2 separate regions of the Homo sapiens genome follow, and region 1 is linked to region 2. The links come from fine-mapping of genetic effects on gene expression. Tissue or cell type: neural progenitor cells. Region 2 holds a variant in brackets; the other region holds the start of a gene. All regions are shown on one strand. Distances are between the middles of the regions. Region 1 holds the start of NOPCHAP1 (NOP protein chaperone 1). Region 2 overlaps NOPCHAP1 (NOP protein chaperone 1).

The links. PIP is the estimated chance that this variant, and not a neighbour inherited with it, causes the effect.
Region 1: NOPCHAP1 starts here. The variant in region 2 is the best candidate, but not a certain one, in a credible set for the expression of NOPCHAP1 in neural progenitor cells (Aygun 2021, PIP 0.60).

The regions. Positions count from the first base shown.
Region 1 is chr12:104,984,980-104,987,479 of GRCh38, forward strand. It overlaps NOPCHAP1 (NOP protein chaperone 1), which reads left to right and starts at 1,337. Exons shown (of 4, transcript NM_152318.3): 1 at 1,337-1,488. The coding sequence starts at 1,374. LOC105369952 (a long non-coding RNA gene) reads right to left here and starts at 1,391. Exons shown (of 2, transcript XR_007063436.1): 1 at 1,324-1,391. RefSeq lists enhancers at 991-1,503, 1,504-2,014 and a silencer at 1,567-1,816.
Region 2 is chr12:105,007,830-105,010,849 of GRCh38, forward strand. It overlaps NOPCHAP1 (NOP protein chaperone 1), which reads left to right. Exons shown (of 4, transcript NM_152318.3): 4 at 1-3,020. Among named protein-coding and RNA genes, the nearest start is that of NOPCHAP1, 23 kb to the left of the region's middle. The variant A/G (reference allele first, on the strand shown) is at 1,198.

The sequences.
Region 1 (2,500 bases), 23 kb before region 2:
TTAAAAAATGGGTAAAGGAGTTGAATAGTCATTTCTCCAAAGAAGATATATAAATGGCCAACAAGCCCATGAAAAGGTGTTCAGCATCACTAAATCATTAGAGAAATGCAAACCAAAACTTCAAGATATCACTTCACACTCACTGGGATGCTCACTGTCAAAAAGAAAGAAGCAACCAAACAGAAAAAGGAAATATTGACAAGGATGTGGAGAAATTGGAACTCTTGTGCACTGTGGGAATGTAAAATGGTGCAGCCACTATGAAAAACTATACGGAGGCTTCACAAAAACCTAAAAAGTAGAATTACCCTATTATCCAGTAATCCCATGTCTGGGTATGTATCCCAAAGCATTGAAAAGCAGGGTCTCTAAGAGATATTTGTACCACCATGTTCATTGCAGCAGCGTTCACAATGACCACGAGGTGGAAGCAACCAGCACGCCTGTTGAGAGATCAATGGTAAGAAAATGTGGTATATACATACAATGGCATATTATTCAGGCTTAAAAAAGAAGAGAATCCTGTTATGTGCTACAACATGTCTAAACCTTGAGGGTATTATTTTAAGTGAAATTAGTAACAAAAAGGCAAGTACTGTATGATTCCACCTACATAATGTATCTGAAGTAGTCAAGCTCATAGTAACAGAAAGTAGAACGATGGTAGCTGGGCATGATGGCTCACGCCTGTAATCCCAGCACTTTGGGAGGCCAAGGTGGGTGGATCTCCCGAGGTCAGGAAATCAAGATCAGCCCGGCCAACATGGTGAAAACCCGTCTCTATACAAAAATACAAAAATTAGCCGGGCGTGGTAGTGTGCACCTGTAATCTTAGCTACTTGGGAGGCTGAGGCACCAGCCTGGGCGACAGAGCAAGGCTGTTTCAAAAAGAAAGAAACAAAGAAGAAAGTAGAATGGTGGTTACCAAGGGACTGGAGTAGGGGTAAATGGGTATAAGGTTTCAGTTTTGCAAGATGAAAATGATCTAGAGGTCTGCCACCACTGAATTGTACAACTAAAAATGGTTAAGATGGTAGATTTTGTTACGTGTTTTTTCACCAATTAAAAAAAAATTTAATAAAAAAGGATAAAGAGGAGGGAAGCCTAATGTTATGCTCTTTATGCCCGAATTTGGCGAAATCGAGCCTTGCCCGCTGTTTTTTCCTATGACAGTGTCTGAACCTTTCTTTTTCCCAGGAGTAGGAATGGCCCCTGCTCCCGCGCAGCCTCCAGGCTGCACCACGCTCGCCCCGCCTCTCTCTCCGCTCCTTACTCCGCCCACCGCAGTTTCCTCCAATCGCGGCCCTCTCCCCGCCCCCTTACCCGAGCCTTTTTCCTGCATCCGGGCCTGAGAGTGCAGGCTTGAGGGAAGCATGGAGGTCCATGGCAAGCCCAAGGCTAGCCCGAGTTGTTCGTCGCCCACCCGGGATTCCTCAGGAGTCCCAGTGTCCAAGGAGCTGCTGACGGCGGGAAGCGACGGCCGCGGAGGTGACGGACGGGTGACGGCGGCATGGGCCGCACACGTGCGGCAGAGGAGGCGCGGCCGGTGCAGTTTGGGAGCCGGCCGGTGGCTCCCTGCCCGGGCTCCGTACCCTCGAGGGGAGCCCCGGGGACTGCTGCGGGGCTCCGGCGTGCCCTGCCCGCGGCAGGGGTGGGGGCTTTGGGGCGGGCACCCGGCTGCGGGCCCGGAATGGTTTCCCCAGCTAGTGGTTCTTATATTCTGCAAGGTAGTGAGCGCCCACCCTGCCAGGCGCCGCTGCCAGGCATCTGCCCTGCCCTGGAAGCTGGGAAGCTCTCGAGTTCTTTTGGGGAAGGGAGGGCTTTTGGTTTGGCTGCCTGGGTCGGAGCAGTTGGCTGATAGGGGGAAGCGGAGTAATATTATGCTAACAGTCCCTACCTCTTTCACACCCACACAGACCACCCCTTAGTGCTGCTGTCTTGTAGAGGGAGACATGCATCCAGGAAATCCACACAGCATTTCAGACACTATAGGTAGAATTTAAAAGCACGAGTTCGAATCCCAGCTCCACTAGTAATTAACTGGTGGGACTTAGAGTTATTTTCATTCCCTAAGCCTCAGTTTTTGCATTTGGAAAATGGTGATAGTAGTAATGCCTGTAGAATTTTTGTGAGGAGGAGAATGCCTAAAAAGGCTTGGGCATGTTGTCAGTAAATACTAGCTTGAAGAAAAGGTTTTGTGAGAACCCAGAGATTCCGAAGGAAGTATAATAATGATAACCAAAGCTTATGTAGTCCTTACTATGTATGCCCCAGAAACTAACTCATCTAATCCTCACAACAACCCTTTGCAGAAAATCTGTTATCTCTGTTTTATAGTTGAGGAACCTGAGACATGATTTATCATACAGGTAATTTACCTTCTGGAGATCATGTGGCTAGAAAGTAGCAAAACTGGGACTTGAATTCAAGTAGTCTGGCTCCAGACTCTGTGCTCTGATCACGAATCCAGTAGGCCTTAAGTAGTAGGCATTCAATGGAT
Region 2 (3,020 bases):
ATGAACTCATCCTTTTTTATGGCTACATAGTATTCCATGGTGTACATATGCCACATTTTCTTTATCTAGTCTATCACTGATGGGCATTTGGGTTGGTTCCAAGTCTTTGCTATTGTGAGCAGTGCTGCAGTAAACATACATGTGTCTTTATAGTAGAATGATTTATAATCCTTTGGATATATACCCAGTAATGGGATTGCTGGGTTAAATGGTATTTCTAGTTCTAGATCCTTGAGGAATTGCCACACTGTCTTCCACAATGGTTGAACTAATTTACAATCCCACCAACAGTGAAAAGTGTTCCTGTTTCTCCACATCCCCTCCAGCATCTGTTGTTTCCTGACTTTTTAATGATCGCCATTCTAACTGGTAACTCATTGTGGTTTTGATTTGCATTTCTCTAATAACCAGTGATGATGAGCTTTTTTCATGTTTGTTGGCCGCATAAATGTCTTCTTTTGAGAAGTGTCTGTTCGTATCCTTCGCCCACTTTTTGATGGGGTTGTTTTTTTCTCGTAAATTTGTTTAAGTTCTTTGTAGATTATGGATATTAGCTCTTTGTCAGATGGATACATTGCAAAAACTTTCTCCCATTCTATAGGTTGCTGGTTCACTCTGATGATAGTTTATTTTGCTGTGCAGAAGCTCTTTAGTTTAATTAGATCCCATTTGTCTATTTTAGCTTTTGTTGACATTGCTTTTGGTGTTTAGTCATGAAGTCTCTGCCAATGTCTGTGTCCTAAATGGTATTGCCTAGGTTTTCTTCTAGGGTTTTTATGGTTTTAGATCTTACATTTAAGTCTTTAATCCATCGTGAGTTAATTTTTGTATAAGGTGTAAGAAAGGGGTCCAGTTTCAGTTTTCTGCATATGGCTAGCCAGTTTACCCAACACCATTTATTAAATAGGGAATCTTTTCTCCATTGCTTGTTTTTGTCAAGTTTTTCAAAGATCAGATGGTTGTAGATGTGTGGTATTATTTCTGAGGCCTCTGTTCTGTTCTGTTGGCCTGTATATCTCTTTTGGTGCCAGTACTGTGCTGTTTTGGTTACTATAGCCTTGTAGTATAGTTTGAAGTCAGGTAGCGTGATTCCTCCAGCTTTGTTCTTTTTGCTTAGGATTGTCTTGGCTATATGGGCTCTTTTTGGGTTTCATATGAAATTTAAAGTAGTTTTTTCTAATTCTGTGAAGAAAGTCA[A/G]TGGTAGCTTGATGGGGATAGCATTGAATCTATAAATTACTTTAGGCAGTATGGCCATTTTCACGATATTGATTCTTCCTATCCATGAGCATGGAATGTTTTTCCATTTGTTTGTGTCCTCTCTGATTTCTTTGAGCAAGTTCTCCTTGAAGAGGTCCTTCACATCCCTAGTAAGTTGGATTCCTAGGTATTTTATTATCTTTGTAGCAATTGTGAATGGTAGTTCACTCATGATTTGGCTCTCTGTTATTGGTATATAGGAATGCTTGTGATTTTTTGCACATTGATTTTGTATCCTGAGACTTTTGCTGAAATTGCTTATCAGCTTAAGGAGTTTTTGGGCTAAGATGATGGGGTTTTCTAAATATCATGTCATCTGCAAACAGGGACAATTTGACTTCCTCTCTTCCTATTTTTATACCCTTTATTTCTTTCTCTTGCCTGCTTGCCCTGACCAGAACTTCCAATACTATGTTGAATAGGAGTGGTGAGAGAGGGCATCCTTGTTTTGTGCTGGTTTTCAAAGGGAATGCTTCCAGCTTTTGCCCGTTCAGTATGATATTGGCTGTGGGTTTGTCATAAAAAGCTCCTATTGTTTTGAAATATGTTCCATCAGTACCTAGTTTATTGAGAGTTTTTAGCATGAAGGGGTGTTGAATTTTATCAAAGGCCTTTTCTGTATCTATTGAAATAATCATGTGCTTTTTGTCATTGGTTCTGTTTATGTGATGGATTATGTTTATTGATTTGTGTATGTTGAACCAGCCTTGCATCCCAGGGATGAAGCTGACTTGATTGTGGTGGATAAGCTTTTTGATGTGCTGCTGGATTCAGTTTGCTGGTATTTTATTGAGGATTTTTGCATTGATGTTCATCAGGGATATTGGCTTGAAATTTTCTTTTTTTGTTGTGTCTTTGCCAGGTTTTGGTATCACGATGATGCTGGTGTCATAAAATGAATTAGGGAGGAGTCCCTCTTTTTCTATTGTTGGGAATAGTTTCAGAAGGAATGGTACCAGCTCCTTTTTGTATCTCTGATAGAATTCTGCTGTGAATCCTTCAGGTCCTGGGCTTTTTTTGGTTAGTAGTCTATTAGTTACTGCCTCAATTTCAGAACTTGTTATTGGTCTATTCAGGGATTCAACGTTTTCCTGGTTTAATCTTGGGAGAGTGTATGTGTCCAGGAATTTATCCATTTCTTCTAGATTTTCTAGAGGTGTTTATAGTTATTTGTATAGAGTTGTTTATAGTATTCTCTGATGGTGGTTTGTATTTCTGTGGGATCAGTGATGATATCCCCTTTATCATTTTTTATTGTGTCTGTTTGATTCTTCTCTCTTTTCTTCTTTATTAATTGGGCTTGTGGTCTATCTATTTTGTTAATCTTCTCAAAAAACCAGCTCCTGGATTCGTGGATTTTTTGAAGGGTTTTTTGTGTCTCTATCTCCTTCAGTTCTGCTCTGATCTTAGTTATTTCTTGTCTTCTGCTAGCTTTTGAATTTGCTTGCTCTCGCTTCTCTGGTTCTTTTAATTGTGATGTTAGAGTATCGATTTTAGATCTTTCCCGCTTTCTCCTGTGGGCATTTAGTGCTATAAATTTCCCTCTAAACACTGCTTTAGCTGTGTCCCAGAGATTCTGGTATGTTGTGTCTTTGTTCTCATTGGTTTCAAATAATTTATTTATTTCTGCCTAAACTTCGTTATTTACCCAGTAGTCATTCAGGAGCAGGTTGTTCAGTTTCCACATAGTTGTGCATTTTTTAGTGAATTTCTTAATCCTGAGTTTTAATTTGATTGCACTGTGGTCTGAGAGACCATTTGTT